Linked DNA regions of Homo sapiens. The protein of the gene in region 1 purifies or fractionates together with the protein of each later gene. This does not show direct contact. Each region holds a gene or a part of one and is shown on either strand. Other genes may lie near its edges.

What was found.
Region 2: the proteins of SCN4A (region 1) and FAM162A purify together in Homo sapiens (affinity purification with mass spectrometry; one large-scale study listed by BioGRID and IntAct). This does not show direct contact.
Region 3: the proteins of SCN4A (region 1) and TSPAN15 purify together in Homo sapiens (affinity purification with mass spectrometry; one large-scale study listed by BioGRID and IntAct). This does not show direct contact.
Region 4: the proteins of SCN4A (region 1) and PARP16 purify together in Homo sapiens (affinity purification with mass spectrometry; one large-scale study listed by BioGRID and IntAct). This does not show direct contact.
Region 5: the proteins of SCN4A (region 1) and PIGU purify together in Homo sapiens (affinity purification with mass spectrometry; one large-scale study listed by BioGRID and IntAct). This does not show direct contact.
Region 6: the proteins of SCN4A (region 1) and TPST2 purify together in Homo sapiens (affinity purification with mass spectrometry; one large-scale study listed by BioGRID and IntAct). This does not show direct contact.
Region 7: the proteins of SCN4A (region 1) and SOAT1 purify together in Homo sapiens (affinity purification with mass spectrometry; one large-scale study listed by BioGRID and IntAct). This does not show direct contact.

What each region holds. Positions count from the first base shown.
Region 1 is NC_000017.11:63,955,919-63,959,418, reverse strand, and holds part of SCN4A (sodium channel protein type 4 subunit alpha), read left to right. Parts: coding exon 1-154; intron 155-1,900; coding exon 1,901-2,257; intron 2,258-3,500. UniProt on the Homo sapiens protein: Pore-forming subunit of Nav1.4, a voltage-gated sodium (Nav) channel that directly mediates the depolarizing phase of action potentials in excitable membranes.
Region 2 is NC_000003.12:122,404,682-122,408,181, reverse strand, and holds part of FAM162A (protein FAM162A), read right to left. Parts: intron 902-3,500; coding exon 793-901; intron 1-792. UniProt on the Homo sapiens protein: Proposed to be involved in regulation of apoptosis; the exact mechanism may differ between cell types/tissues.
Region 3 is NC_000010.11:69,496,465-69,499,964, reverse strand, and holds part of TSPAN15 (tetraspanin-15), read right to left. Parts: intron 1,757-3,500; coding exon of another isoform or gene 1,686-1,756; coding exon 1,569-1,685; intron 1-1,568. UniProt on the Homo sapiens protein: Part of TspanC8 subgroup, composed of 6 members that interact with the transmembrane metalloprotease ADAM10.
Region 4 is NC_000015.10:65,262,884-65,266,383, reverse strand, and holds part of PARP16 (protein mono-ADP-ribosyltransferase PARP16), read left to right. Parts: intron 1-3,063; coding exon 3,064-3,235; intron 3,236-3,500. UniProt on the Homo sapiens protein: Intracellular mono-ADP-ribosyltransferase that plays a role in different processes, such as protein translation and unfolded protein response (UPR), through the mono-ADP-ribosylation of proteins involved in those processes.
Region 5 is NC_000020.11:34,670,593-34,674,092, forward strand, and holds part of PIGU (GPI-anchor transamidase component PIGU), read right to left. Parts: intron 1-3,500. UniProt on the Homo sapiens protein: Component of the glycosylphosphatidylinositol-anchor (GPI-anchor) transamidase (GPI-T) complex that catalyzes the formation of the linkage between a proprotein and a GPI-anchor and participates in GPI anchored protein biosynthesis.
Region 6 is NC_000022.11:26,583,633-26,587,132, forward strand, and holds part of TPST2 (protein-tyrosine sulfotransferase 2), read right to left. Parts: intron 1-3,500. UniProt on the Homo sapiens protein: Catalyzes the O-sulfation of tyrosine residues within acidic motifs of polypeptides, using 3'-phosphoadenylyl sulfate (PAPS) as cosubstrate.
Region 7 is NC_000001.11:179,296,797-179,300,296, reverse strand, and holds part of SOAT1 (sterol O-acyltransferase 1), read right to left. Parts: intron 1-3,500.

The DNA.
Region 1 (3,500 bases):
AGCAGAGATGGTTCTGAAGCTGATTGCCATGGACCCCTACGAGTATTTCCAGCAGGGTTGGAATATCTTCGACAGCATCATCGTCACCCTCAGCCTGGTAGAGCTAGGCCTGGCCAACGTACAGGGACTGTCTGTGCTACGCTCCTTCCGTCTGGTACACAAAAGCCCCAGGGCCAGGGGCTGGGATGGGGGTGGGGTGAGGAGACTAAGGAGGGTGGGCACAGGGATGGGAGGAGAAACCCCAGGAAGCTAGAGGGCTGAAAACGAGGCCTCCTCTGCCTTGTGCACACCTGTTACCTCTCAGAACCTTTCTTACCTGTAAAACAGAGAAAAGGAGAGCCCTGTCTTCTTTCATAGGGCTGCTGGGGGGACCCAAGTGACAGAGGCCAACACTGGGTTTGATTCCTTAATGACCTTGAGCAGCAGTGGAGCAGGAACTCCAGCCCCATACTGCAGACCTGAAAGCCGGGGCTCTGGAAGTTCATTAGGAGTAGGATTGGGACCTCTGAATTTCTGTCTTTTCACCACCCCATAAGGAGCACTATTATTCTTTTTAAAACTTTATCAGCTGGACGCGGTGGCTCACGCCTGTAATCCCAACACTTTGGGAGGCCAAGGCGCGTGGATCACCTGAGGTCAGGAGTTCAAGACCAGCCTGGCCAACATGGTGAAACTCCGTCTCTACGAAAAACACAAAAATTAGCTGGGCTTGGTGGCGCACGCCTGTAATCCCAGCTACTTGGGAGGCTGAGGCAGGAGAATCACTTGAACCCGGAAGGCTGAGGTTGCAGTGAGCCGAGATCGCACCACTGCACTCCAGCCTGGGTAACAGATTGAGACTCTGTCTCAAAAAAAACAACAACAACAAACTTTATCAAGGGATCTTTTCATGCATGCACAAAAGTATAGAGAAAGTATAATGAACCTCCACGTACCTATCACCCAGCTTCAACAACTATCAACATTCTACAATTCCTGTTGCATCTGTCCCCCAATTTTTATTGTGAAAGCAAATCCCAACATATAATTTCACTTGTAAATACTTTAGTCTGTATTTTTTTTTTTAGACAGGGTTTCTCTGTCACCCAGGCTGGAGTGCAGTGGTACGATCACTGCTCACTGCAGCCTTGACCTCCCCAGACTCAGGTGATTCTCCCACCTCAGCCTCCTGCATAGGTGGGACCACCATGCCTAGCTAATTTTTGTAATTTTTGTAGGTCAGGGTTTCGCCATGTTGCCCAGGCTGGTCTCCAACTCCTAGGCTCAAGTGATGCACCTTCTTCGGCCTCCCAAAGTGCTGGGATTACAGGTGTGAGCCAACTGCTCCCAGCCATAGTCTGTATCTTTAACAGATAATGACGAATGACATTTTTTCTCTTTTCTTTTCTTTTTCTTTTTCTTTTTTTTTTTTTTTTTAGTGGAGTTTTGTTCTGTAGCCCAGGCTGGAGTGCAGTGGTGCAATCTCTGCTCACTACAAGCTCCACCTCCCTGGTTGAAGCGATTCTCCTTCCTAAGCCTCCTGAGTAACTGAGATTACAGGCACTCGCCACCATGCCCGACTAATTTTTTGTATTTTTAGTAGAGACAGGATTTTACCATGTCAGCCAAGCTGGTTTCCAGCTCCTGAGCTTAAGTGATCCACCCGCCTCGGCTTCCCAAAGTGCTGGGATTACAGGCGTGAGCCACCGCGCCTGGCCTGGACTTGTTTTCTTTTTAACACATGAAGGGCCTGAGGTGGTAGAATGAGTGTTCCCATTTAGCAGAAGGGCACACTGAGGACTCAGATGGTGTGGGGGGCTGGAGATTCAAGCTACTCGACACTGTTCTTTCTCCTAAGGCTGGGGCTGCCTTGGGTGGTGGTCCCTGGGCCTCATTCACCCTTGCCCTCCCTGCTTGGCAGCTGCGGGTCTTCAAGCTGGCCAAGTCGTGGCCAACGCTGAACATGCTCATCAAGATCATTGGCAATTCAGTGGGGGCGCTGGGTAACCTGACGCTGGTGCTGGCTATCATCGTGTTCATCTTCGCCGTGGTGGGCATGCAGCTGTTTGGCAAGAGCTACAAGGAGTGCGTGTGCAAGATTGCCTTGGACTGCAACCTGCCGCGCTGGCACATGCATGATTTCTTCCACTCCTTCCTCATCGTCTTCCGCATCCTGTGCGGGGAGTGGATCGAGACCATGTGGGACTGCATGGAGGTGGCCGGCCAAGCCATGTGCCTCACCGTCTTCCTCATGGTCATGGTCATCGGCAATCTTGTGGTGAGTGAGGCTGGCTGGGTGGCCCCTGCCCTCACCCGGGAAGCGTACAAGATGTACCTGATATTTGACTGTTTTCTATCTCCCCAACACATCCTCTCCAAAATGGCAATTTTATGTGGTTTAACCCCGTAGTTCTCAAATTTTAACCTGTGTAAGAATCACTTAGGAGTTACTTAAAACATAGATCCCCGGCCCCACCCCCAGAGTGTCTGATTCAGCAGCTCTGGGCCTAGGCCTGGGGACCTGCATTTCTGACAAGCTCCGAGGTGATGCTGATCAGTGGATGCTGATGGTGGTTCTGGGACCATGCTATGAGTAGCGCTGTTGGAACCTAGTGTTTTGAGTAAAGCAACATGATAATGAGTCAGACAGACCCACATTCCAGTCCCAGCTCCTTTGCCATCATCTGTGTGACCTTGAGCTAACTGCTGCTCTCTAGTCAAGCTGGGTTCTCTAACCCTCACATAGAAGAAAAACAACAGGGAGTTCATGAGGTCACTGCAAAGATGATGCCATAGTGTGTACAAAGGCACAGTTTTGTGGGGGAACCTGGGCCTCCTGGCCTTCTCCCACCCTCTTGACCTCCTCTGCTCCAGGGCCTATGGTCCAGGCGCCGAAAAAGAGAATCAGGCTGGATGTGGTGGCTCATGCCCATAGTCCCAGCACTTTAGGAGGCCAAGGCCAGGAGTTCAAGACCAGCCTGGGCAACATAGCAAGACACTCTTATCTCTACAAAAAATGGAAAAATGAAAAAAATTAGCTAGGCATGGTGGCACACACCAAACCCAGCTATTTGGGAGGCTGAGGCAGGAAGATGGTTTGAGCCGTGGACTTCAAAGCTGTAGTGAGCTGTGATCCTGCCACTGCACTCCAGCATGGGGGGGCAGAGCAAGACCCCATCTCTAGAAAACAAAAAAGAAACAGGTGCAGATATTGGGAAAATGCAGAGATGGCATAAACTGCATCTCTTCTGCCGCTTACTGTGGTTCAGGGCTTGGCATGAGGGGCTGGTGCAGAGGAAGGGGCCAGGAGGTGAGAGCCAGGGTATAGGGCCATGGTCCAGCTGGCCAGCATTTCTGCGGCTAGGGCCTCTGGAGGTGACCCTGACTTCTCCCCTTCTTGGGGTGGCAGTGGAGGTCACTCCTGCCAGAGCCCTGCAGTGCTGTGCCCAGCTGCCCCCTGCAGTGGCTGGTGCTGCCCTGGGCAACAGGGACTGGGAAGACGCCTGTCCCCATGTTCCCCA
Region 2 (3,500 bases), on another chromosome or scaffold:
GTGATTAAGTGAGCTTAACAGTGCCTGTTACATAATAAGCACTCAATAAATGGGAGGAATTTTCCTATTACCTGAATTGGGTCTAGGTTCACACTGTGGCTCGTCATTAAGGAGATATGTGGCCTTGGGCAAGTTACTAAAGCTTTCTAAGCTATAGTTTTCCTCATCTATAAATCAGGTCCTAATAATACTTATCTTACAGTGTTTTTGTGAGGTTCAGATGAGATACCAGCTAGAAAAGTACCTGGAATGCAGTGAGTGTTCAATTAGTGATAGCTATTAATTATAATCTGTGCTAAAGATTTCTGGACTTGTATTCCTATGTACTGCTTAGGAGCTGTGGTCCTTAGACACATGGCCCTGTCTGGCTGAGCTTCAAATAAAGAACCCCGCTAAGAAAGCTCACCATGCTGAAGGCAGTTATGGTGAGGGTAAATACACTTGGGTACCAAGAGCACTCTGGAAATATGCAGTGGGTGATTAAATATGCCAGTGTCCTATTTCTTAATTTACATTATGACACCTGTCATCAGAAACACTTTTTAAATTTACATTACACAAAATGAATCTAGTCCTTCTTCACCACGCCAAAGTTAGGATTTGCTATCTATCCCCAAGGATGATATTCCAGGCTTGTTCCCAATATGTCTTATTTTTTTGCTTATCTTTTCTCATGTAATGTAGAAAGTAGCCTCCTCTTCTCAGAGGGTAAATACAAGGGTCAATCCCTGATTTACTCTAGGTTCTTGGTGGAGAACATACATACTGGATAGAGAAGAAACCCCTTCTCACCTTCTTGCCCTCAATAACCATGAAGATGCATCCTACCACCGTCAGGGCAATCATTAGATAGCTGATCTTCACTCGCATCTTGTTCTTTGCAGCATCAAGCATCTCCAACCTAGTAATACAATGAGATCATGAGAGAAAGTTATTAACTTTTCCCTTTCTGAAGTTGCTCAGGATAAAAGGCTGTGTATAAATTCAAAATGTAGTAGTGTCTATAAATATAAATAGGGAGACCTAGAGATCTCTTTAAAAAGGGCCTAGAGATCTCATAGGACTTTGGGGAGGATGAGGCATTTTTCGTAACTCATTTATGTATAAAATACAGGATAGCACACAATTAAGTACAAAAGAAGAAAACAAAAAGAGAAGTCAAGAACAAAGCCAAAAAAAAAAAATGGGCAAGGCATATTAATCTACACTTGCTATGGTGGACCCCAATTTTGGCTCTCAGGTTTCCAAGCAGCCTATAAATGCTAGAAGTGAAACAGTCATTTCTCCCTGAGGTTCTTAAGAAGACATTATGTGATGTAGTCATCGTCTGAAAACATCTCGACAACAGATACTACAATAAGCTTCATATGTTTCAACACAAAGCACAATTCAGAATGATCAAACATTGGAGAAAGTTAACCAATGTGCTCCATATACCCAGCTTTTTGCTCTCTGTCTTGAACCCAGAATAGATTTGAGAATATCTAAAATAGTAGGAAGATCCTTTAAGCAATGCTCCTCAATATTTATCTTTTTAAACAAATGTTTTGCTAAAATTGAGTGACAGTGAACTTGATATTGTGGTCTTTGGCAAGTGCCAAAGTGCAGCTCTTCTAACCTATCTACTGAATACAGACCCATGTGCCTTAAAAAAAAGTTGATGGTTGGTTCATCATTCTTGTGTGAAACCTAAGAGGCTTAATATAGAAGAGTCTAAAGGCCAATCTACCTTGGTGATTTTGCAAGTAGGCAGTGAGTCATGGTTCTATTTTTAATTTACTTTATTTAAAGAGATGGGGTCTCACCATGTTGCTGACTCAAAATCTTAGACTGAAGCGATCCTCCTGCCTCAGCCTCCTGAGCAGCCGGGGCTATAGGCATGCATTGCCACACCTGGTGGTCACGATTCTGTTACCTCGGTGTCTGGCAGAACCTCAAGGCAGGGGATGTGGAGCCCTTATGGGGCCCAGGATTAACTTATGGCCTTCTCAGTAGATGTGTAAATAGGAAGTGATTATCTCTAGATGATGGGATTGAAGTGCTTTCTTTCCCCTGAGATATTTAACATATATTACTTTTAAAATTGGGGAGGGGAGTACTTTAAAAATGCTTGGAAGGAGGCAAAGAGTCTGGGATGTTGCAGGTGGAAGGAGGAAGATGATGAAGCCATGTACAATGTGATGTAGGAGCTGGGACCTGTGAGGCAGCATGTGGACGGGGTTCTCCAGGCACTTAAGCTGGGCCTGCAGGCTGGCAGGAACCCAAGACAACTGCTAAGGACTGTCAAATTGGTCAGTTAGGAGCACCTGAGATTCCACTAACCACAAACTGACTTCCCATGTTGACGGTATTTTATGGGATTTGAAGTGCCATGATCCTCATGAAAAGTAATCCATTCCATAGGGAGTAATAGGAATGGGCAAGTTAAGCAGTGCCTGTTCAGAACTACCAGCACAAGGACAAATGGCTGCCCAGGCCCAGAAAAGACCCTTCCAGAGTGATTCGTGAGGTAGTATTTTGGGCCTGAGGGGATCTTGGAACCAACTATTAGGCAGACTGAGGAAGGTGTTCTATAGCAAAGCCTATACAGCATCTGTTAAGGCCATGGGTGTCTACCAGCTTATTTTCTGCTGGTATAGGAAGAATTAGGGCATAGGCAAGAACCTGATGTCACTGTTATTTCCAGTATTCTCTTATTTCCCAGAAGAATACATGACTTGAGCTAAGAAAAACCAGGGCTTTCCTGCTGAAATAATTCTAGTTAAAGTAATGTGCTATCAATTTGACTGGCAGAAGCAGAAAAGCTCTATTAAAGCTGTTGTAAACAGAAAGTAAATACTACATATTTCCCTGGGAAAGAAATCCTGAATGAGCTCAGATCTTTTTCAATCATGACTTGAAACCAGAGACCAGAAGATCCAGGAATAGTTTCTTGCTGACAGGGAACTTCCACGAGCTTTGTCTGAAGTCCCTGTCCCTGAATAGGATGATGCCTCACAGAGGAGATGACATCTATTTCTCAGAATCTCTTTTTAGCCAAGATGCCAGCCAGTCAGGGTCTTTAACATGAGGCTAGGGCACTGGTTCTCAACCAGGGGAGATTCCCACCCCGCTCGTGCCCCTTGGACATTTGGCAGTGTCTGGAGACATTTCTGGTTGTCAGCACTGCCGCAATGCTACGGGCATGTAGGGGGCAGAAGCCGGGGATGCTGCCAAACATCTTCCAACAAATAGGACACCCCCCTGCCACAAAGCATTATCAAGCCCCAAATATCAATAGTACTGAGTTGAGAAACTGGGTTGGAGGAACCTGCACTCATCATCTACAAACTCTGAAAAAGTTCCATGATCCCAGCCAAGATCCCTTCCCTTAGGTTTAAGGAAGTTGGTGACAGGAAGCACTCTTTCCTGAATTCCAGAATATTGCAATTAAATACTTTTACACCTAAGGTTGAGTACTTAAGTGGATTTGGGGGAATACAGTCATTGTCAATGGTACT
Region 3 (3,500 bases), on another chromosome or scaffold:
TGGCCTTCGGGGTACCCATGACCTCCCTGACTCCACCTCCTACCATCCTCCGCTGTGCTCCCTCTGCTCCAGCCACTCTGTGCATTTCTCAAACGCCCTGGGGTGATTCCCACCTGGGGCCTTTGCACAGCTGTTCTTGCTGCCAGGAATGCCCCTCCCCCAGACACCTTCCTCACTTTCTTCAGAGCTTCACCCAGATCCCGCCTTTCTCAGTATCCCAAACTGCAATCCTCCATGCCCTACTTTCTTTTTCTACTCAGCATTTATGATCCTCTATCTTTTACTTATTTTGTTTGTCAGTTTTCTCCACTAGGATGTCACCTCCTTGCGGGCAGAGACTTTGTTTGCTACACCCCCAGAACCTGGAAATGTGTCTGGCATAGAGTAGGTTCTCAGCCAATATTTGTTGAATGAATGAATGAATGAATGAATACAAGTTTGGCTTCCACATCTCAGCTTAGGTATTCAGATGCTGCTGCCCTGGGTGATGAGGTTCAGGATCACCCCACGCAGGCCTCTCTGGAAACTCTGCTACTCCTCAGCACCCCACTTCCCAGAGAACTACCCTAAAATGGCAGCTAACACTTCCAAACAAAGCTTCCCTCCTGGCCCGGCCTTTTTTAGAGCTAGTGCACTTGGCACTGGCTCTCTGACTCATGGGCGAGGCCCCCACCCGCAGCTGCTCAGTTTACAGAATCCAGCAGTGGGCACAGAATGGTGGCAATGTCAGGAGAAAAACTTTCCATGACTATCTGGGCCATGAGTAATTGCAAAGCTCTCCACCTCGTTCCAATCCTGAAACAGTTTCTGGACACATTTGTCAAACACAAGGACTGATGAAGCCTTTCACTTAAGCGCTGACAACACAAGACATCATCCCAAATGACCAAGGTGACAGACCCGAGAGGATCGTGCTGGGGAGAGGAAGAGGATGGCATTTACGTCACCAGACCCCCTTCCAAGCACTCTGCTGCTGATGATCACCAGGACCTCAAGGCCAAAGACCAATGGAGATGCCCAAGGTGCAGGTCCTGCCTGCCTCCACTAATGCTGCAGAGCCAGCTACCCCCGCTAAGCTCCCCTGGCCTGGGCACCTCTCCCTCCTGCCCTCACCTGGCCTGCACAGTTCTCCAGAGTGTAGCTCAGGCAACAGCTGCCTGCACTTCATCCCAGCCCTGCCAACCTTGGGCAAGACACCCAGCCTTTGAGTGCCTCAATTTCCTCATCTGTAAAGTGGGTAAAATAACAGTACATACCTCACAGGGTTGTCGTGAATACTAAATGAGTAAATACCACCAAAGTGCCCAGAGCAGGCCTGCACAAGGTAGGTGCTCAATAGATTTTAACCAACACCACTAAGAAAGACATGGTCTCCCTACCCCCGACCCCCAGAAGCTCCACTTTCAGGAGCCCTTGAGAATCAGGAAAGCCTCCGCTCTGCCACCAACTCCTACTTCCCTGCCATCCACCCACACCACCCATCTTCAAGTTGGGAAGAGAGAAAAGAGAACATTTATACCACCTGGGGTCCCCGACAGCCCCCCAGTCCCCACAGGAGCAGTGTCTACCGTGTTCCTGATGCAGCAGGTGTAGGGCACCCCACAGGCCAGGGGTCCAGGGGCACTGCAGTCGTGGTACTGATTCTTGCTCCAATCTCGGTAGTCCTCCCCGCCACAGCACTTGAACTGAGGGAAGCAAGCAGGAAAGAGGAGCTGCCGTCATCGCCCAGGCCCTGCTCAGACGACAGGAAGGGGCCCTGTCAGGAGACGGAGGCAGTTTATTATGTGGGTCACCCTGGGGCAGGGAGAGGCTGTACACTTTCAAGTCAGAGCTGTCAAAGTGTGGCATGGCTGCCTAGAGGGTAGTGAACCCCCTGTCACTAGAGAGGTATGGAAGCCAAGGCTGGGCTGCCTCTTGGTGGGATATCAGGGTAGTGACTAGGCACTGGGAGGAAAGGTCCTTCCTTGACAACTGGCCTCCACTTTCTTCATCTTCGTGTCCCCAAATGCAGGTGCTAGGCTGGAAAAGATGGCCCTTAAAGTCCCAGAGACCAAGCATGATTCTGTGAAAGTCCCTGCACCTCAACCAACCTTCGCACCCACCCTAGGAGCCACCCCGTCCAGCTCAGCTGGCCCTGCCCTTAGCAAGGAGAGCACCCACACCTCACAACCTGCCTGGAGCTCTCCCCTTAGCCGAGCCCCTCCCTGCCTCCCCTCCCTGCTCCTGTAGGAAGTAGTTGGTAACCCTCCTGATGGCTGGTATGTGCCTGGCATTGTCCTGGGCACTGGAGAGACAGGGTGAGCAAAAGCAAGGCAGCCCTTGCTCAGGTGGAACACATTCCAGTGGAGAGACAGAGAGTGAGCACTGGATGGAAAGGTGCTGTGCAACCTGGAAATGGAGAAATAGGGGGAAAGTGGGGAGGGGCAGCTCTAGGTTGGCAGGTCATGAAAGGGCTCTTTGTAGAGAGGATATTTCATCTGAAACATGGAAACAGAAAGAAGCCAGACGACCCATGCAAAGGCCCCACGCAGAAACAAGCTTGTATTTCAGCAGCAGGTGCGGAGGCCAACAAGCCTGGAACAGAGAGAGTGCAGAGCATGAGGATGAAAGGGCGGCACAGGCTGGACCATGCAAAGCTTTGCCAGCCAGCTGAAGCAGGGAGCTGGGACTGGAGGGCTCAACCAGGGCTGCAGTACACGTCCTGGTAGCCAGACACCTTTCAGAGTCCCCACAGTGCCCCTTAAGCCACCAGGTTTTGGGACCTAGAACTGTCTTTCTGCAATGTAGTTCAAAGGGCATTTGTCTTGCAATGGAACAGACCCAAGGTCAAATCCTCAGACCACCACTCCCTGCTGTGCAACCTCAGGCAAGTTGGTCAGCCTCTCTGAGCCTCAGATGGTTGTCTGTAAAGCAAGAATAAGGATGGCAGCTCTGCACAGCTGAGCTGTGATTACATAGAGTGCCATGCATGAAGCACTCAGCACTGGACCTGGCACCAAGCAAGTGCCCATTCAGCATTAATCACCTCCTACCTCTATGCCAGGAGAAATGAAATCCCCAAGCCAGCTAAAGGCTGGTTCCAATAAAAACATCTCACTCCACCCGGAGCAGAAGTCAGCTCTCCCAGCCCAAGCTGGCAGGCACATCCCTGGCAGAAAAAGACCTTCCAGAGGCTGCACCTGTTGTGACTGAAGAGAAAGTCTGGGCCAAGGGAGCGGCCACAGCAAGTGGCCCTGCATGTGGGGAGAGGCTAGTCCCCACTGAGAGCTGGCACAAGGATCCAGGCCAGCTGAGGCCCCCAAGATTATGTCCCAGGAAGTGCTGTCCCGGCTGAGTGGGCCTGCAGCCCTCACTCTACTTGTCCTCACCCAGGAGAACATACCAATGATCCCCACAGCTGGCACTGTGGTCTCACCCTGTGCTTGGCACTGTTCTAAGCACGTCTCCTGAATTAAGTCAAGGTAATCCTCATGACGACGCCCCAAGAGCTCCTGTCATTA
Region 4 (3,500 bases), on another chromosome or scaffold:
AAAATGCAAAATCTTGGGCACACTCTAGACCTTCTGAATCAGAACCTGCATTTTAACAAGATCTCTAGGTGATTCCTGCACTGGTTATAGTTTGAAAAGCGTCGATTTAAAGATAGTTCCCGACCTTGGCTGCATATTTAGAATCACTCGGGGAGCTTTTAAAAATCCCAGATGCCAGGCCTGGCGCAGTGGCTCACGCCTGTAATCCCAGGACTTTGGGAGGCTGAGGGAGTTCCAGACCAGCCTGGCCAACGTGGTGAAACCCCATCCATACTAAAAATACAAAAATTAGCCGGGCATGGTGGTGGGTGCCTGTAATCCCAGCTACTCGGGAGGCTGAGGCAGGAGAATTGCTTGAACCTGGGAGGCAGAGGTGGCAGTGAGCTGAGATCGTGCCATTGCACTCCAGCCTAGGTGACAGAGTGAGACTCCATCTCAAAAATTAAAAAATAAAATAAATAAATAATAAAAAATCCCAGATGCCTGGCTGCATCCCAGACCAATTAAATGAGAATCTCCGAGTGGAGCACAGGCATCAGTTGCTTTAAAAGCTCTCCAGGTGATCCCACTATGTAGCCAACCCTAGCTCCACTGTGCGTTCCCTGGACCAGCAGCGTCTGCATCACCTGGTAGCTCGCTGGAAATGCGAATCTCAGGCGCAGACCACCTGATCGGAATCCACACTTTAACAAGGTCCCCAGGTGATCTGTATGCATATTGAAGTTTGAGAAGCACTTTCCTTGGGGACCACACTCCAGGAAATCAGCCCTTGGAGAAACTGAGGGATATGCCAAGATGCACCGAGGAGAGGTCCTTTCCCTCCCCTCTTGAGCTGCTTTTGTCCCATTTTTATGAGTCAAAACAGTCATCTATCCACTTCTCTGCAGGCATTTATTTTACCCCTCAGGTATAGGAGGAGCATTACAGACAGACCCTGGAGCTACAGAGACTTACTTAGCAGCTCTATGGCCCTGAGTAAATTAAACTCTCTGAGCCTCAGGTTCTTCATCTGTAAAAAAGGACACCATTACCCTCCTTCTTATATGTCAGAGAATTAAAACAGTTCATGTATGCAAAGGGCTCTTTGTGTACTAAGTACCAAGGAAGAGGTAGCTGCTTTTATATGCTGATGGAGGGGCATCTAGGGTAGTTGGAGGAGCTGCAGGCCTTTCCCCCAGTCATGGCAGTATCTGCCTTGTCTGTGAGGAGCTGGCTCCATGAGCCATGGGCTCAGTTGTGGCTGCTGCAGCCCTGAGACTGGAGATATTTCCCTGGTGTATCTGGTTAATGTCGTTGGGTTTTGCTAAGGATGACGGGCTTGTTTACACTGGCTCTCAGTCCACCACTGGCTCTCAGCTTACCATTATGTCCAGGCTACTGGAATTCAGGGGGCTTCCCCTTTACACTGGTGCTGGCCTGGAGAAGTTGCCTGCAGATTATACTCTTGTACACTAAACCTTCATTTTAGTGCCCCAGGGAGTTTGCTGCTTAGAGGCATCTTACAAAAATCCTTTGGTAAAGCACATCAATCCTCCTATGGCCCCTCTGCCTGGGTTTTCAGTGAAGGGCTTGCTTGAGGGAGTCCATCTGCCAGTTGATACTGATACTGTTTTCATGGCAGAGATACACTGAGCTTCCCACTCTTGTACACCACTGCTCATGGCAGCCTTGCATGGGGTTCTCAAGTCTAAGGAAGGGTGAACACATGATGGCATAAGCAGAGAATGGATGTGGGGTCAGATCAGAGGGCATCCAGTGTCATTGGAGAAGGTCTGTGTCAGCTTTTGAGAGATGGAGACCCTGCCTAACTTGGCAAAGAGCTTCCCAAAGGCCAAGCAAAGGTCTGTTTCATTTCCCCTAAGCTTCACTTAACAGATTTAGGATTTTGGAAGCCTGGTGCTACTGAAAAGGACATTTCTCAATTCCAGAGCATAAGATATTCTTCAGTGAGCTATTCAAGTCCACTTATCTTGAGATACTGATAGTGTGGCTCAGGGATAGCAGTTGAATTTCAACCTGAGCGTCAATGTCCATCCATTGGTCGCAGCTACCTGGAATGTTAAGTTGAGGATTCTGGATCATTAGGAATAAGTGCCATGCTTGATATTACTGTGCTGGCAATTGTGGTTTGTTATTGGTCATCTACCATGGGCAAAGATGTGTTCACTATGCCTGCTGTAGCCTCAACTTACAGGTCCTTCACCTGGCATGCTTCCTTATGGAGGGCACCACCAGGGAGATGCTGCCTAGATTTTTAGATGTTTTCTTGGTCAACCCCAATACAAAGAGTAAAACGTACCTTGCCCCGCATGTCGGCCTCCCTCATTTTGTTATAGTTTCTGGTCTAAGAGACTAATTTCTAATTTATTTATTATTTTTAATTTTTATGTTTTTATTTATTTGTGAGAGACTCATTTCTTTTCCAAGTAATGACTCAGATTACCTCCCTTCTCAGGTGGGACCCCTTCCCTGTACCTAAGGGTGTGACTTTGCATTTGAAGCCCATCAGAGTAACCATGCCTACTGCATTCATGTAACAGGAATTACTTTATATACTAGAACATAAAGGCCTGCAATGGAGTACTGGCCCCTCATTTATTTAGATGTGCCAGATGTCCCACTCTTTTATGTATGTATATTGCCTCATTTAATCCTCACTGGCAACCTTGTAAAGGAGCTACTAGTAACATTATTTTGTAGATCTAGAAACTGAGACACAGAGAGTTTATATAACTTGCCACTTGCTGGAGGATTCAAACCGAGGTTGGTTTGGATGCTTATACCTATGTTTTTCTCACTCAACCTTGACCACAAGGAACTGCTAGTTTGCCAGGCCAGATGGCCAAATCCACAATCAGTTAAACTGTTGTCAGGCAGGAATGTGTTTAGTAATAACCCTGTGATGATATCACAGGATTATTTGATCCTGTGTCTTGCTGGGGCAAAAAGCGGGGGTTGTACATTTTGTGTTTACAACTCTTGAAGAGAGACCTGTGTCGTCTTGCCGTGCCAACTGTACATTCAACCATCTGTGTTTCTTTTCCATTGGCCTTGCTGTTGCAGACATCCTTGTTCGGAGAGGGGACCTACCTCACCAGTGACTTGAGCCTGGCCCTCATATACAGCCCCCATGGCCATGGGTGGCAGCACAGCCTCCTCGGCCCCATCCTTAGCTGTGTGGCCGTGTGTGAGGTCATTGACCATCCGGACGTCAAGTGCCAAACCAAGAAGAAGGGTGAGTGAGCACTTGGTCCAGACCTGGGCTACAGGCCTCTGTTGGGTGTACAGGCTCTTGCTGGCCCAGCTGTTGGGTAGAGCACCCATTGCATGCCCAAGGGTTGGGCTGGATCCAGGGCAGTGCCGGACAGGGTCCTGCCCAAGGAGCGAGCAGTCTTCTTAGAGATTGAACACTCAATGGAGACCATTCACTACAAGGGGGTAGGTAGGGGGTGCCAGGTAAGGAGGCTGACGAGGCCCACAGAGGCAGCTCAGAGGAAGTA
Region 5 (3,500 bases), on another chromosome or scaffold:
GCAGTGGTGCAATCTTGGCTCACTGCAGCCTCCACCTCCTGGGCTCAAGCCACCCTCCCACCTCAGTCTCCCAGGTAGCTGGGACTACAGGCACACGCCACCATACCCACCTAATTTTTGTATTTCTTTTTTGTAGAGGTGGGGTTTCACCATGTTATCCAGGCTGGTCTCAAACTCCTAAGCTCAAGTGATCTGCCCACCTCAGCCTGCCAAAGTGCTGGGATTACAGGCTTGAGCCACCATGCCCAGCAACCCTGATTCTCATAGCTGTAGTAGGGGTGGGTTTCTAGATAAGTACTAATAGCTTGGGCTCTACCCTGAACTCAAAAAGCTAAGCCTATACGAACTGTCAATCTTTGGGTGAAAGCCTCAGGAAAGACTAAAACATGGCAGAAAGTTTCTAACATTATTCCTGACAGATATCTAAACAAGATGATACTGGTGGAACAGCCATACCTAAAGATTGCTAGCTCTTCATACAAAATATTATTAGCGAGGTCACCTTGGGCAAATGACTTAATCTCTCCATGCCTCAATTTTCTCATTTATAAAATGGGGTTGATAACAGTTTGCCATTTTAGAGATCAAATTAGTGCATTAACACACCTAAAGTGCTTAGAACAATACCAGGCATGTAAAAAGCATCATATCATTGTTAATTTCTTTCTTTTCTTCTTCCTTTTTTTTTGAGACGGAGTTTTGCTCGTTGCCCAGGCTGGAGTGCAATGGCGCGATCTCGGCTCACCGCAACCTCTGCCCCCCGGGTTCAAGTGATTCTCCTGCCTCAACCTCCCAAGTAGCTGGGATTACAGTCATGCACCACCACGTCCGGCTAATTTTGTATTTTTTTAGTAGAGACAGGGTTTCTCCATGTCGGTCAGGCTAGTCCCGAACTCCTGACCTCAGGTGATCCACCCACCTCGGCCTCCCAAGTGCTGGGATTACAGGCGTTAGCCACCGTGCCCAGCCTGTTAATTTCTTATTAATTTTTTAGAAGCTCCTGCTTTTGTCAAACAGGAAATTCATTCCTTAAAAATTTATTTCTTGGCCGGGCGCAGTGGCTCACACCTGTAATCCACCACTTTGGGAGGCCAAGGCAGGTGGATCACCTGAGATCAGGAGTTTGAGACCAGACTGACTAACATGGTGAAACCCCATCTCTACTAAAAACACAAAATTAGCCAGGTGTGGTGGCTCATGCCTGTAATCTCAGCTACTCAGGAGGCTAAGACAGGAGAATGAATCGTTTGAACCTGAGAGGCAGAGGTTTCAGTGAGCTGAGATTGTGCCATTGCACTCCAGCCAGGGCAACAAGAGTGAAACTCCTTCTCAAAAAAAAAAAAATTTTCTTTTTTTATAAGGCAGAGTCTCACTCTGTCACCTAGGATGGAATGCAGTGGCACGATCTCGGCTCACTGCACCCTCCACCTCTGCCTCCCGGGCCCATGCAATCCTCCTGCCTTAGCGTCCCGAGTAGCTGAGACTACAGGTATGGGCCAAACATGTCCAGCTAATTTTTGTATTTTTTTGTAGAGACAGAGTTTTGCCATGTTGCCCAGGCTGGTCTCAAACTCCTGGGCTCAAGTGATCCTCCCGCCTCGGCCTCCCAAAGTGCTGGGATTACAGGCATGAGCCACAAAACCCGGCCTGGAAATTTATATGTATTTTAGTTACACTATCAAATAAACCGATGGATTTGTAGAAATAGGTAACAGAAAAGATATTTTTCCTGTTGAAATGGATATGTTATTTGTGCCTGCCCAACATCAATCTTCCCTTCTTTTGGTAACAGCACCCTAATTTTTCCTATGGGATACCCCCCTTGTGTACATTTTGGGTGAGACTGCCTCCTTTCCAAAGAGGTAGATACATGACCCAGGCAGACTACAGTAATTGACCGAAGAATTGGTATATGACCCAAATCAGTTCAATGTGACTTAATTCCAGAGCTTTCGTTGCACTTATTCAAAAAAAAAGAGGTCAGGCATGGTGGCTCATGCCTATAATCCCAGCACTTTGGGAGGCCAAGGCAGAAGGATCGCTTGAGGCCAGGAGCTTAAGACCAGCCTAGGCAATATATTGAGACCCCATCTCTACAAAAAACAATAAAAAACAATTAGCAAAGTGTGGGAGCATGCACCAATCCCAGCTGTTTGGGAGGCTGAGTCAAGAGGATCTCTTGAGCCCAGAAGGATGAGGCTGCAGAGAATTATGATCATGCCGCTGCACTCCAGCCTGGGAGACAGAGTGGGACCCTGTCTCTCAAAAAAAAAAAAAAAAAAAAAAAATCAGTCCATACTATAGCCAATCAAAATCTATTTGGATTTGGATCCAGGGCCCCTTTACCCAAAGAACTGATCATTCAAAAATTTAAAATGTCAGCCCGGCGTGGTGGCTCACGCCTGTCATCCCAGCACTTTGGAAGGCCGAGGCGGGTGGATCACGAGGTCAGGAGATCGAGACCATCCTGGCTAACATGGTGAAACCCCGTCTCTACTAAAAATACAAAAAATTAACCGGGTGTGGTGGCGGGTGCCTGTAGTCCCAGCTACTCGGGAGGCTGAGGCAGGAGAATGGCGTAAACCCGGGAGGCGGAGCTTGCAGTGAGCTGAGATTGCACCACTGCACTCCAGCCTGGGTGACAGAGTGAGACTCCGTCTCAAAAAAAAAAAAAAAAAAAATGTAAAATGTCATGTGAAACCAGAAGGAGTCCTACTTTACTATTTTTAAATTCCTGCCTTTTAGGGTTTATATAATCAGCTGCTTTAAAAAATATCCCATTTAAGGTACCCTTTGAAGAAAAGTAATGCTTACAGATGTTGTACCTTCCCTCCCAAATGATACAAATAATCATGCTGATTTAGTCAGATCCAGATGATGGGTGGTTAACAAATCTCTCTCTCTTTCTAGTCCTGACACTGGCCTCAAGCTCCAGACCTAAACCTGTCAGTATTGTACTATCACATTATACACACATGAAACACTACTATGTCCTTTCTGATTCATCTATTTCAGCCCATGTCAGCACTATTTTTCCTAATATCTCAACTCAAAACCTTAGAATTCACCTTTTTGGCTTTCATTATTGTGTTGAGCTTCAACATGGATTATCTCGTTGAACAGGATACATAATTTCCTATTTTACAGATGGAAACACTGACGTTAGAATTCATACAGCTTGGCCGGGCGTGGTGGCTCACGCCTGTAATCCCAGCACTTTGGGAGGCCAAGGCGGGCGGATCACGAGGTCAGGAGATCAAGACCAGCCTGGCTAATATGGTGAAACCTCGTGTCTACTAAAAATACAAAAATTAGCCAGGCATGGTGGCATGTGCCTGTAGTCCCAGCTACTTGGGAGGCTGAGGCAGAAGAATCGCTTGAACCTGGGAGGCAGAGGTTGCAGTGAGCCAAGATCATGCCACTACACTCCAGCCTGGGCAACAGACTGAGACTCCATCTCAAAAACAACAACAACAAAAAAAGCTTGGCGCAGTGGCTCA
Region 6 (3,500 bases), on another chromosome or scaffold:
AGTTCGAGACCAGCCTGGCCAATATGGTGAAACCCTGTCTCTACTAAAAATACAAAAATTAGCTGGGCGTGGTGGCATGCGACTGTAATCCCAGCTACTTGGGAGGCTGAGGCAGAAGAATAGCTTGAACCCAGGAGACGGAGGTTGCAAGGAACCAAGATCATGCCATTGCACTCCAGCCTGGGCGACAAGAGCGAGACTTCGTCTCAAAAAAAAAAAATTGTTTTTAAAGCAATGGAACTGCTTATTCAGGTGGCACGAGGCAGGCCTAAGGCATCCTCAGATCCCCTGAAAAGCCGCACTTACGTGACAATGGGGAGTAGGGGGAACCACAGTGACTGGGAGAGTCCAGGCCACCTAAGGGGCAGCTTCAGGCCACTCCAGTTTGGCCTAAGCTCCTGGGTTTCCAAGAGAAATGAGAAATCAGAATTTTTCTCTAGAAATGTTTGAATGTTGACTCAATTTTAAAAACACACACGTAGCATGGGAGCTCAACAAAAAACATGCAGCAGGGTGAACTCACCCATTTAACATGTACGGAAACTGGGGCTCAGAGAGGGGAAGCTCCTTGCCCAATGTCACACAGCAATTTGGAGGAAGAGTTGGGACTTGGCTGCTTCCAAGCTCTGCTGTGCATGAGAGTGTGGGAGTGGGAGGAACAGAGCGAGTAGGGAGGAGTGGGTGGGAATCTGGACTTTACAGGCCAAGAGCCCTGCATGTTCTGATCATCAGGGAAGGAGTGTGGACAGAGGGATGGAGAGCGGATCAATATTTATTCAGAATAGTTATAACAACACCTGATGTTTTCTGTGTGTTTTCTATGTGCTAGGCCTTAAGATGGGATATCAAGGAGGAGTAAGAATGAGAATTCAGAGTGTAGAGTCTGGGCTGGGTGTGGTGGCTCACGCCTGTAACCCCAGCACTTGAGAGGCCAAGGTGGGATGATCGCTTGAGCCCAGAAGTTCAAGGTTATAGTGAGCTATGATTGTGCCACAGCACTCCAGCCTAGGCAACAGAGCAAGACCCTGTCTCAAAACAAACAAACAAAAAAACCCAAAACAAAAAAAAAAGAAAGATTCTGGATCCAAATCCTATGTCTCCCACTTCCTAGCTGGGTGACCTTGTGCAAATTACTTCACCTCTCTGAGCCTCAGCCTGTTCACATCATATGGCTGTTGGGGGAATTAAATGAGTTAAACCACATACAGTGCCTAGAACAGTGTCTGGCACCCAGTAAGCCCTGTTGATATTGGCTGTATTTATAATTGTTGCCTTTTGACAGACGGAGGAACTAAGGTTCACAAACGAACATGTTCAAAATTCCAAAGAGCCTGTTTAACCCCAGGGCCTCAGCTTTTGCCTGGTACCAAGATAAGTGCTTTACCACCATTCCCTTCCATCCAGCACCCCTGGAAGATAGGTCCTACTTATACCTGCATTCAACAGATGAGAAAACCAAAGCATAGAGAAACAGCCAACAGCCCCAGAAAGATGTGGAGCACCTGGATTCTAATACAGGCCAGTGCCCCCTAGCTCCCTATCACACTGCCTGCTTTCTGGGCTGCCTGCCTGCTTTCTGGCTGCAGAAGCCCCAGTCAAAAGTCTTACTGATACAAAGTCACTCGGCAGACGGGCTGGCTGCCCGCCATCTGAGCACATAGGATAAGAAGTTTCTCCCTGGGCCATCAGCCCCAGACGTTCCCTAGGGCCTGTGGGCACTGCCTCTGAGGTCCTTCCCTGCAATTTCTGGGGGCTGGCCAAGATCTCAAGCAGCTCTGAATGAATCATTCCCACAAATCCTCCTCTGGCTGCAGTAAAGGGTGGGGGAGACCTGAGAAGTGACGGGAGGGGACAGTCATCCCAGATCTCTGGAGGGGCCCCAGACCGGGTACATGCAGGTCCTCAGAGGGCACGGGGACTTGCAAGCAATCGGAATAGGCAGCAAGTCGGGGAGCAGGAGCTGCTGCTACCCAGAGAAGCTTCCCTGGTGCCACGTGGGGCATCAAAGCCACACAAGCCACATGCATTTTTCCAAGAAAGTACATTCTGGTCACCAACCCCAGGCTGTGAAGCTACATCTGATCTGCCACTCTTACTACAAATACACCCACAAAGTCACATCAATAATACATTTCAGGCCAGGCGTGGTGGCTCACACCTGTAATCCTAGCACTTTGAGAGGCCGAGGCGGGCGGATCACAAGGTCAGGAGATCGAGACCATCCTGGCTAACACGGGGAAACCCTGTCTCCACTAAAAATACAAAAAAATTAGTCAGGCATATGCCTGTAGTTCCAGCTACTCGGGAGGCTGAGGCAGGAGAATGGCGTGAACCCGGGAGGTAGAGCTTGGAGTGAGCCGAGATCACGCCACTGCACTCCAGCCTGGACAACACAGCGAAACTCCGTCTCAAAAATAATAATAATAATAATCATAATAATACATTTCAACAGCCTAACCGATCCCAAGGCACCACCACATCTTAGTTCTGAATGGTCTATGCCCATTCCTCAGTAGGGTACACTGACACCCAGAGAGCGGCAGTTCCTTGCCTAGGGAGCCTTCCCACCCCGTCTCCATGTCCCTAGGCTGCTTTCTTTCTTTCTTTTTTTAATATTTAATTGATTTTTATGTACTGACCTAATACCCTACAATCTCGCCCTGTTGCCCAGGCTGGAGTGCAGTGGTGCAATCTCAGCTCTCTGCAACCTCTACTCAAGCGATCCTTCCACCTCAGCCTCCCGGCTATCTGGGAATACAGGCGCGCACCACCACGCCTGGCTAATTTTTGTATTTTTTGTAGAGATGGAGTTTCACTATGTTATTCAGGCTGGTCTCAAACTCCTAGGTTCAACCAATCCATCCACCTCAGCCTCCAAAAGTGCTGGGATTACAAGCATGAGCCATGCACCCGGCCTAGGCTGCTTTCTTAATGCACAGGAACTCAGGATTTTAAAAGGACAAGGAAAGGCAAGTATGCAAAAAAGAATAAAGTCACGAGGTGCCAGATACAGCGGCTGGGAGGCGTGGTCTTAACACCATTCCCAAACAGCAGCTGCCCAGATGAACCAAGTTGTCAGGAAACTGGAACACGCAGATAAGTGCTGGTCTAAGTTCCTGAACCAGCAGAGTACAGGTTCAAGCTGGGGTGAACTACCTACCTTCTCAAGGAACTCTTCCTCTGTGAAAACGCTGGGTTCTGACCTGAGTTCTTCCGGTGCAGCCTCTTGCTGAAGCAAAGAGTGTGAAGGAAGAAACACAGGGTCCTAGGGGTGGGGAAGGTGCTGAGAGGAGGGGGAAGATGTCTGTGTGTGCAGAATGTTCACAGATGAAGCGTCTGTAACTCAGGACTGCTCATCTCAGGCCTGGGGGGTGGCCCCTCTTGAAATAAGCAGCAACTCACATAGGACACTCCGGTGGCCACCCAGAGAAGTCACCTTCAGAGTAGCGTGGGGGGTTCCAGATAGGGTGTGGGCAGGACCAGACTTAATTTTGGGGTCA
Region 7 (3,500 bases), on another chromosome or scaffold:
TAAACTTTGAGGGACAGCCTCAAAGTAGAGGAAATCAGGGAAGAAAAAGAAAGACACAAAAGGAACCAAGATGTTTCAGTAAGAGAGGAATTTTACAAGGAATAATGGGAATTTTTTTTTTTCTGGCCAGATGAACAGAGACTTTTTTTTTCTGGCCAGATGATGGGGAATTTAAAGTAGATACTCTTTTAAAGAGCATATAGCAAAAGTTTAAAGCATAAAAGACAGCAAAATGAAGCCGGGTGCGGTGGCTCATGCCTGTAATCCCAGCACTTTGGGAGGCTGAGGTGGGCAGATCATGAAGTCAGGAGATCAAGACCATCCTGGCTAATACAGTGAAACCCCATCTCTACGAAAAATACAAAAAAAAAAAAAATTAGCTGGGCATGGGGGCAGGCGCCTGTAGTCCCAGCTACTCGGGAGGCTGAGGCAGGAGAATGGCATGAACCCAGGAGGCGGAGCTTGCAGTGAGCTGAGATCACACCACTGTACTCCAGCCTGGGCAACAGAGCAAGACTCCGTCTCAAAAAAAAAAAAAAAAAAAAAAAAAAGATAGCAAAATGATTAAAAAATAAATGCCAGATTAAAGTTTATTACCCAAGCCATATGAAACAGTATAGCACAATGCAATATTTCTCAAAGTAGAATAATAACAGCTGATTTTTTTTAGTGCTTATGTGTTTTACATGTATTATTTTCATCTCAACAGAATCAAGACAGATACTATTGTTATTTTCCAAATATTCTTTGGCCACCATAGTGTCCCATATACTCTTCCCTGTCTATAGAAAGCTATTTCTCCTCTGCCCTTTTTTTATGTAGCTAACTCCTACTCAAGCCTTCAAAGAATCACAGCTACAGCAGTAATAGAATTAATACCAACAGTTCTGATTTAATGAGCACCTATTATGTACCTCTAGGCACTGTGCTGCTAAACTTTTTACATTACATTTAATCTTTACAACCTTAGATAAGTATTATCCTCATTTTACAGATGAGTTTAGGGAAGTGATTTAACTTGTCCCAAATCAAATAATTCTCCAACAGCAGAACTAGAATTCAAAACAAAGACTATCAGATTCTACAACCTGCCCTCTAATCGCTAAACCGCCTCCAACTCACCCTCTGAAGTTTCCTTTACCACCACCTCTCATCTCATCCTCTCTGCGGTCCCACTACACTGAGCATCCTGTCACATGTTACATTGTCCTATAATCAGAGAGCAATACTCTCTGTCTCTTACATTAGGCTTAAGTTCTCAAAGATAGGGATTACATAGTATTTTCTGTAAGACTCCCCCAAATCTAGTGTGGAGTACCTGGAGTACAACAGGCAGGCATTAAGAAAGAAAGCAAATGTATCAGTTAATATGTAACCAATTATTCTAAGCACAAGACAGTCCCCAACTTATGATGGTTCAATTTAAAATTTTTCAACTTTATGATGGTGCAAAAGCAACATGCATTCTGTGGAAATCATATTTTGAGTACTCATACAACTATTCTGTTTTTCACTTTCAGTATAGTATTCAATAAATTACATGAGATAATGAACACTTTATTGTAAAATAGTCTGTGTTCAATAATTTTGCCCAACTGTAGGCTAATATTAAGTGTTTGGAGCATATTTAAGGTACACTAGGCTAAAACTACCCAAAAAACATTTAGCCCGGCGTGGTGGCAAGCACCTGTAATCCCATCTACTCAGGAGGCTGAGGCAGGAAAATCACTTGAACCCAGGAGGCGAAGGTTGCAGTGAGCACAGGTCGCACCTCTGCACTCCAGCCCAGACAACAGAGTGAAACCCTGTCTCCAAAAGAAGAAATATAAAAAGGGAGTCCTTGGTAATAAGATGGTTCCTCAACCATCAAGCTACTCTAGAGGAAACCTTACATCAAAAGCTAAAACAGGGCCGGGCATGGTGGAATACATCTGTAATCCCAGCACTTTGGGAGGCCGAGGTGGGCAGATCACCAGGTCAGGAGATCGAGACCATCCTGGCTAGCCTAGCACGGTGAAACCTCGTCTCTACTAAAAATACAAAAAATTAGCCAGGTGTGGTGGCAGGCACCTGTAGTCCCAGCTACTCAGGAGGCTGAGGCAGAAGAATCGCTTGAACCCGGAGGTGGAGGTTGCAGTGAACCTCAATCACACCATTGCACTCAAGTTAGATCAAGTCACTTCACAACTTAAACCCCTTCAAACATCCTAAGTCCTTACCATGATCTAGTAACTTCTGCATTGCCTGCCACTCACCACCACCCCCTTAAACACCATCAATCTTTTTTTTTTTTTGAGACAGAGTTTCACTCTTGTTGGTCAGACTGGAGTGCAATGGCACGATCTCAGCTCACCGCAACCTCCGCCTCCTGGATTCAAGCGATTCTCCTGCCTCAGCCTCTGGAGCAGCTGGGGTTACAGGCCACCACACCCAGCTAATTTTGTATTTTTAGTAGAGATGGGGTGTCGAACTCCCAACCTCAGGTGATCCGCCTGCCTCGGCCTCCCAAAGTGCTGGGATTACAGGTGTGAGCCACCGCGCCCGGCATTTTTTTTTTTTTTTTGAGACGGAGTCATGCCATGTCGCCCAGGTTGAAGTGCAGTGGCATGATCTTGGCTGTCTCATTTTCTCTACTCATTACTTTGGCCTTCCACTGTTTCTTAAACAAGCGCACCGGCTCACGCCTGTAATCCCAGCACTTTGGGAGGCTGAGGCGGGTGGATCACAAGGTCAGGAATTCTAGACTGGCCTGGCCAAGATGATGAAACCCCGTCTCTACTAAAAATACAAAAAATTAGCCAGGGGTGATGGCAGGTGCCTGTAATCCCAGCTACTCGGGAGGCCGAAGCAGAGAATTGCTTGAACCCAGGAGGCGGAGGTTGCAGTGAGCCGAGATCGCGCCACTGCACTCCAGCCTGGGTGACAGAGCTGGACTCCGTCTCAAAAAAGAAAAGAAAAGGACAGGACATGGGATATTTCACAATTGGGGGACATTAATAGCTATGATTTGATTACATGCACAGTTTTAGGAGGAAGGACAAATAAATATATTGGAGTACACCGCCAGTAAGTTGAGGAAGTGAAAACAGTGATCATAAGACTAGTCTCTCAAGAGGTCTAGCAGTGAAGGAATCTCTAGCGTTTAGGAAGCAGGTAACAAAGTGCTGAGTGCAGTAGGTGTAGCACATATCTCATTTAACATGTCCATTTTTAAAGATGCAGGAGATTCAGAAATGCTAACAAACTTGTTCAAAGTCACAGGTAACATAAAGCTATTCCCCCCCAGGTAACAAAGCTAAGTAGACAGCTATTTATACAACACACTGATTGAAAAAGAATTTCTTAAGAATCTAATCTGTGCACGCAATTACATAATGTTCAGTGTGATAAGCATCTAACTTATCTTAAGAAAGCAAAACAAAAAGAAATGATTTGAGAAACAAATGAACTTGGAAAGACATGTCAACTTTAGCCTGCCTCCGTGTTCCCATTAATACAGC